Homo sapiens: one gene and its partner. The protein of the gene in region 2 purifies or fractionates together with the protein of the main gene of each other region. This does not show direct contact. Each region holds a gene or a part of one and is shown on either strand. Other genes may lie near its edges. The genes, in order: EPS15L1 and GAREM1.

The links.
Region 1: the proteins of GAREM1 (region 2) and EPS15L1 purify together in Homo sapiens (affinity purification with mass spectrometry; one large-scale study listed by BioGRID and IntAct). This does not show direct contact.

What each region holds. Positions count from the first base shown.
Region 1 is NC_000019.10:16,360,291-16,364,107, forward strand, and holds part of EPS15L1 (epidermal growth factor receptor substrate 15-like 1), read right to left. Parts: intron 1,695-3,817; coding exon 1,489-1,694; coding exon of another isoform or gene 1,480-1,488; exon of another isoform or gene 1,288-1,479; intron 1-1,287.
Region 2 is NC_000018.10:32,464,167-32,467,983, forward strand, and holds part of GAREM1 (GRB2-associated and regulator of MAPK protein 1), read right to left. Parts: intron 1-3,817.

The DNA of each region.
Region 1 (3,817 bases), on a different chromosome or scaffold from region 2:
GCTATTCAAGAAACTCTAGATAAAGCAGGTTTTGTTTCTGGCTTTTATTAACAATGTCACCATTTTGTATAGACCCCCAGTGCGCATCTAGGGTCAACAAAATCAAACTCACTGCCGTTGTAAAATATTTATAGGTCACCAAGAGCCAGAAACAGGTCAGGGTCTTGGGCGATTTAAATAAGCCACATGGGCCAGTCACGTGTAACCCCAGTACTTCAAGGTGGGAGGATCGCTTGAGGCCAGGAGTTCCAGACCAGCCCAGGCAACACAGCAAGACCCTACCTCTACAAAAAAAAAAAATTAAACATTAGCCTTGCGTGGTGTTGCACGCCTGTCGTCCCAGCTACTCAGGAGGCCAAGACAGGAGGATCGCTTGAGCCCAGGAATTCGAGGTTACAAGTGAGCTCTGATCGCGCCAATGCAGACCAGGCTGGGCAACACAGCGAGACCCTGTCACTAAAATAAATAAATTGACAAATAAGCCATAGGATAGCTGTGCACGGTAGAGATTATCAAGACGGCTCAGAAACAAATCGGGTGCTTTCTGTGCATTGACATGGCAGGGCTGTGTTCAAAGAGCCATCCCAGGAGTCGAAGCATCTATAAATAACACATCTCACACCTAATGATGAAGGAACTAACAAGCCCAAAGGAAGAAAGCGAGGGCATCACACATAGTGAAACCAATTCTGGGAAGACAACACCTGAAGCTTTCAGAGAACAAGATTTTCATGTATCAAGGAAGCTGCTAAAAACTCCTTGAAGCGACGGCATGTTACAATCTGGAATATTTTTTCACACAGAGAAAAACAAAGCCAGGCTTTCGAAATCCCGAGATTTGCTTCCGAAAAGGCACTTAACTTTGCTCAACAGTTTTTTGGAGCTCTTTTTGTTTTGGCTTTCAGAGTGGCTGTTCTAGACTGGATTTCTTTTTTCATTGGAGCTGGTAACTGAAATTTAAAAGCTTTAAAAAAAAAAAACTTCAAATTGCTCTTCCCTGGCGCGATCTGCCTGAAGTCCTTCAATTTGCACTTGTGGCACAAAATGCATGGGGCGGGACTGTGAGAACTTGTGCACAAAGGGCTTTTTGGGGACAGCAGAACCCTAATGTAACTTTCGCAATCTTCTTTTCATACTTCGGAAGTGTTTGACATCTTGGCTTCCAAAAACCAGTGAACACAACAGCCTCGGTGCGTCAGAAATAATACAATGAATCTACCGTGAAGGACAGATAGGTCCCGCCTCCCTGCTGGAAGAAAACGTGCCCTTATGATAGAGCATCCAAACTGCGGCTCTTTTTTTTTTTATTGAGAAACTGTTTTTCTTACAGAAGTGGCAGTGTAGAATAAATAACGCGAGGGACAGAGAGTGTGAGGTACCAAGAGGCTAAAGAAGCTGGGAGGTTTGCCTTTAAAAGGAGACAAAAATCCCAGGGAAGCTGCAAGCGGAAGGGAGTGGGGTGGCCCGGAGGCGGAGGACTCAACTTACAGAGGTGAAGTCTGCAAAGCCCGAGGCAGAGGCCTTAGAAGGTTTAGCTGCAGAGGAGGGGACAAATGGGTCTTTTCCACTAAACGGGTCCCCAAACCCCTTTTTACTTTGGAACGGGTCGCCGCTGTCAGCCCCGAGTGGCTGGAATGGATCGGGGGCCTCGGGAAAGTCTGCGGAACCAAGCTGGCTTACAGGTGTACTTTTACCTGGAAAGTTTAGGAGAAAAAAAAAAGGAGAAAGAAAGAAATATGAGTTACTCACCCGGACAGAGCAGAATGCTGGTGGGCACAAGCCCGGGGCGCTTCTCTGAGAAAAGCTTGTAACTTGGCTAACAGGCTGGACGGGGGTACCCTGGGGAATCCCAGTTTTAATCAGCTTTATCCCAGGGGCTTAACGGGTTGTGAACAACACAGGAAAAACACTTCAGATGACTCCCATACACAACGCACACAGAGCAGCTAAAACTTGAGTTGTCCTAGAATAGTTTGCATGCAGGTACGTTTCAAACAGATTCATTTTAGCATGGCAACACATTTATTAACATACTAATTTAAAAAATCATGGCTGAGCAGAAAAATACACTGCAAGCTTCTAACAGTAAAAAAAAAAAAAGGCAGAGGGGAGAGTTACTTGCAAATGAAAAGGAGGAATTAGTTTCACAACGTGGTATGGTTATTCGGTGTGTTAGTTATAAGGGTCTGCACACAGCTCTGCCATGCTGAGGTTTAAGTTCTTTTTTTTTTTTTTTTTTTTTTTTTTTTCAGAGACAGAGTCTTGCTCTGTCACCTGGGCTGAAATGCAGTGGTGCAATCATGGCTTATTGCGGCCTTGGCCTCCAGGGCTCAAGCGATCCTCCCACCTCAGCCTCCTACAGGCATGAGCCACCATGCGTGGCTAATTTTTGTATTTTTAGTAGAGATGGGATTTTGCCATGTTGCCCAGGCTAGCCTCAAACTCCTGCCCTCAAGTCATCTGCCCGCCTCAGCCTCCCAAAGTGCTGGGATTACAGGCATGAGCCACTGCACCTGGCCTTAAGTTCTTTTTTAGCCCCCACTTCTGTCCCTCTGGTGTTGGTGGCTCCAAGGGGCAGCGTTTATCTGGGCCTTTCTGGGCTTCTGCCAAGCAGGGAACTCCAGGATGCCCGGTCCCAGCAAGGTATATCTTGACAGGGAGGTGAGAGAGAAGTGTTCAGAAATGGAGGAAAATGACACTGTGTGGGGGACATGGCCTGAGGATGGTAGCTTTTCCCAGTGCATCCTGCCAATGTACCAGAACATTCCACCAAGAAGCAGAGGCCTGTTAAGATCTGCTTGGTGACGGGAGGTCCCACCTGACGGGCCTTCCAGCATCTGCAGTTTGCAGGCCAGCCGGGCTGACTCCATGCTCCTGACACCCCTCTATCTGCCCAACGGAGTCCCTGGGCATTCAACGTGGTCCACGCAGCACCCCAGACTGGAAGCTCAATAATATGCAACACGATTCCGGCGTGTTAACTCTGGAAGTTTCGAAGCTAATGTTTAGAAAAAACCAGGAACTGCCTGTCCCTCCAGGGTTGACCTTGGATCTCTGGCTGCACCTCCAGAGAGCACCCTGGCTCCCAGCCACACCTGCCCCGCCCACCACCTGAGCCTGGGACACCTGCCTTCCTCATCCGGTAGAACGAGCCCACACAGGCCAGCCTCGGTCCCTCTCCATGCCCAGATCTAAAGCCTTTCCCTCTGTTCCCCCAGCAGATCAGCCATCCCAGGCCTCATTTTTGAGGCCCCAGGTGTCCTTGTGGGCTCCGGGGCTACAGCCCCCATCTGCCACCTTTAGCTCTGGGCCTCGGCAAGGGAAAGTGCCTCCTCCCAGCTGGCCTCCGTTTCCTTATCTGTGAAGTGGAAATGAGAAGGAGGGCGCCAAACAAGGTGACATTCCTGGGGTCCAGGAGTCTCCTCCCACTCAGTGTCCTGCACCGCCGTGCCCAGCATAGGCCAGTGAGAACCTGGCCCGTAGCCCCCCCTTGCCTGTAGCCCTACTTCTGGAAATGGAAATTCACTTTTCTCTCAACCGGCAGTTCTGGGCCAGCATAAGGACTGCTGCTTTCTTTTTGCATATTCAAGGAAAAACAGTCTTCCTTCCCACGGTTTGCACAGAAGGACTCGGAGACAAACTCCCCTGCAGCCCACCCTTGCGGCCTGCCTGTCCGCCTCTGCCCGTCCCACAGGGTTCCACCGGGGTCGCCGTTGCATCCTTAGCTGACCTCTGGCCACCAGCTGCGGGAGATCCTTCCAGACTCCTTGTCTGTGTGAGTCCATCTAAGAGGCTCCTCCTCAGGGTTGGAGGGCGA
Region 2 (3,817 bases):
TGTAAGCCCAGCTACTTGGGAGGCTGAAGCAGGAGAATTGCTTGAACCCAGGAGACAGGAGTTACAGTTAGCCAAGATTGAGCCACTGCACTCCAGCCTGGGCGACACAAAAAGAAAAAAAAAAGATGTAAGTGTCTAAGCTCACTGTTTCGGTACCATTTGGTAAAACTCACCTGTGATTCTGGATTAAATTAAAAGTTCCTGGCCAGATGTGGTGGCTCAGGCCTACATAGTCTCAGGTACCTGAGAGGCTGAGGCCAGAGGATCATCTGAGCCCAGGAGTCTGAGGGCAACCTCAGCAACAAAACGAGAACCCATCTCTTTTTTTAAAAAAGTAAAGTTCCTTTCCAAACTCCTCCAGTCCCTCCGAAGCCCAATCTTGGTTAGATTAGTCAGTTTATAACACTTTCTGTCTGATAAAGACCTTTCGCCACCTTTCTATAACCTGCGGATTACCAGATCAATAACCTGGAATACTCAAAACGAAACACACTCAAGTCACCCAGAGCATTTCTCTCAGCTTCTTCTTCTGTACAAAGACAATAAAACCTGCTGCTACCTAAATGATATGCTATACTCTGAAGCCTCCCTCAACTGATCCGTATCTACTACAGCCATCTCACACATGTATTTGACATATATTATTGCATTTAATTCCTATAATAAGTAGAATGTAAGCACCACAAAGACATACAGTTTTGTCTGATTTGTTCAGTGCTATAGTCCCAACACCTGTAACAGGGCTTGTCACATAGCAGGGGCTTAGTTAAGTGTTAGTTGACTGAATAAACAATTTACTGAATGAAGAATAGGGGCAAGTATAACGTCTAGTTTTCCTACACGGGAAAACTACAAATCAAAGGGATTACAAGACCTGACCAAGATCACATGACTATGAAATGGCAGTACCTCTAACAGAACGAAGGTCTCTTGGCTCCAAATCCAGTATTCTTTAAATTATCATTCCCCCCACCCTGGCCATGTGTACTCTCTTAAAATACAGAATGCCAGGAGAAATGAAGCCACAAGATGAACACCGAACATCTTCCAAGAGCAAAACTAAGTTACTTTGGGAAAAAGAAAAGAAAAGAAAAAGAAAAAGACATCAATTACAAAGTAGATTTTGAGAACTTACTTCAATTTCAATGATAAAACATGGATCCGAGAAAGACCTCTGATGTTTACAAACAGCCACTTGGAGCCTCCCTGGGGCCTAAGTGTCCATGTTTTTGCTCCTAGAGGCCAGTAAATGATAAAGCTGCAGAAGCCTCTGAGCACAAAGTAAGGACCAAATTTCCCACAGTCCCAACACATCCGGGACTTAGAATCTGATCTGATTCCTATGCACAGCCAGGAAGGAGAGACGGTCACTGCTCCTGTTCTACCTACTTAGCAGTCTCCTACTCTTTTTCTTCCCTCTCCCTGCCTTTCCATGCAGCCTTGGTCTTCCTTTTCCTTTCAGCAAACAGGGCCATTAACACATCTTTTATTGTGCTAGACCAGCATTCTTTAAACTGGGGTACATGTTTGGGGCAAAGCTAACACTTCCCAAGGGTCTCATCATCACAACTGTAAAGGAATCAGTTTCTACATTTGAAATTTCCAAACGTACTCTTGTTTAAAAATTAATGGGCTTGGGTCCACGCTTGCGTTGGACATCCATCCTGTGATGACCTTCACTGTGATGGAAGGAACCTGTCGTTCACCATCTCCCCTTCACAATGGTTCTTCACTCACTTTACAAAAGTAATGCACTTGTATTACCTTCTCTACATCTTTCTAAGATGCATTGCCTGAGGGTGAAAAGACCTTGGGTAGAGAAACAAACAAAGGAACAAAAATATTGATTCGTGTTGCAGGGTTAAAGTCTCCACTATTTAGGTAACAACTATTTCTGTTAAGTCAGGTAATTTCCAATTCTTTGTTTTAAAAACAACCAGAAATCATTAAATATTGAAAGTCTTATGATCAAAATAAATACGAAATACTAGATTTCAATCTATATACTTTTTTTTTTGGTTACAGAGAGTATGGCAGAGTGATCAATAGAATACTTTCAAGCATAAAAATATATTACACTGAGACAGAATTCTATACAGCGGAAGAGAAATGGAGTAAGAATTTAAAGAGATAAAGAAAAGGTGTAAAATGTTTAACTTTCAAAAGATTGATTCTTGAATCTCATGAATTTTTAAACAAATGATATTAGAAATCAAATATATATTTTACTAGAGTTTTTAGAATGATGTAATACTTTAAAATATGAATAGTTACAATATGCTGAGAAATTACATCCCCTGCAAGCATTTAAACTTAGAATGAAAAGTTTTAGCATTTAACTGAAAAATGTGCTTAGGGACAGAGTTTCACCAAATCTTTTAGGAGGCATAGAAGCAAAAAGGTTGTAAGAATGCTACTCTAACACAAGCCTTCAGGGTCTATCCAAGATGAAATGAGGAGGAGAGAGAAAATGAACAATTTCCCACCCATCCAGTTTTGAGTGAGGATGGTTGGGGGTGGAGGATTAGTATTTTCTCCATCCTCTCCTTGGTCCTAAGCACATTTGCTGAACCCAGTTCTAAAGTCAACAGTTTATAAGACTGATGATCAATCAGTTTAAATATCTGATCTTAATTGCACTGCTGACTGGGCTTAGACCTCAGCTGATGAGATACATCTCATCAAATCTCCCAAGGAGAATTGCTAGAGTACCTTTCTCTGGGTTCTCCAGAAAAACTTGTGGGGCAACATTTATAAAGGCTCAATTATTTTGTATTTATCTTATCATACAAAGGCAAATTTCACCATCAAGGATGTAATATTGAACACATCTATCTACCTGGCACTTCAGGAGTGGCATGTATAATGCAAAGAATTGGAGAGTTCTTTATATATTGTGTAGTGAATATTCATTCTAAGGATGGCAAATGTCCTGAAGAGTCATCTCAACAGACACATCTACGTTACTAGGCCCTCAAACCCCAATGTTTTTTTTCTCCTGTTCTGTAACCTCTTCTTCCCCACTGCCTCTTGCCTCTTTTCAGCCACTCCTTTGGCAAGCAGAAAGTTGTATGTATGATGGATGAGGCCAGCACTTAATTTGGTGTCTACACTGTTTTTAAAATATTGACTTTCCAGTCCTCAAGCTCTCAGAGAGACAGTGAACCTATTTAGAGCAGATGTCAGAACAACTTCAACCCTTCTCTCCTTTAGTACCAGGAGGTAGCCCAGTTTGAGATAAGAGGTCAGTCTTCAGAGTCAGAAGGTTGGCTGGAAATTCCACTCCACCATTTACTAGGTACGAGTCTTCAGGCAAGTCAATTTTTCTGAATCTTAGGTTCCTGAAGTTCTTAAAAATTGTGTTGCTGAGGATTTGAGACAATACATATTATGCATCTAGAAATGTACCAGCCCATAGTAGGCTTCTGATAATCAATAGTTGTGAAATTAGATTTTTTAATGTTCTTTAAAAATTATTTAAAATTAGCCAATCATTTCCTCTTGGCATAATGTCAACTAGTGGCATGTTTTTCAATTTTGTTCTAGTCTCTTTAAAAACAAGTGATTTGAAAAATGACTATCTTTCATGTCTAAGTATAGGGTGGGCGTGTGCAGATGTAAAATGTACCTGCAGTACTAAAACTGGGGAAAAGGCAAACACAGGATGAGGACAACACAAAACTTAAGATTTCACCTATAACATTTATAAATATACCAGCATGTCCTCAACCTGTCCTAAACTGTGTGAAACATGTTTAAAAACATGCAAAGAATCTATGATTGACTCTTTTAAAGTCTACCCAAATTAAACTGCTAT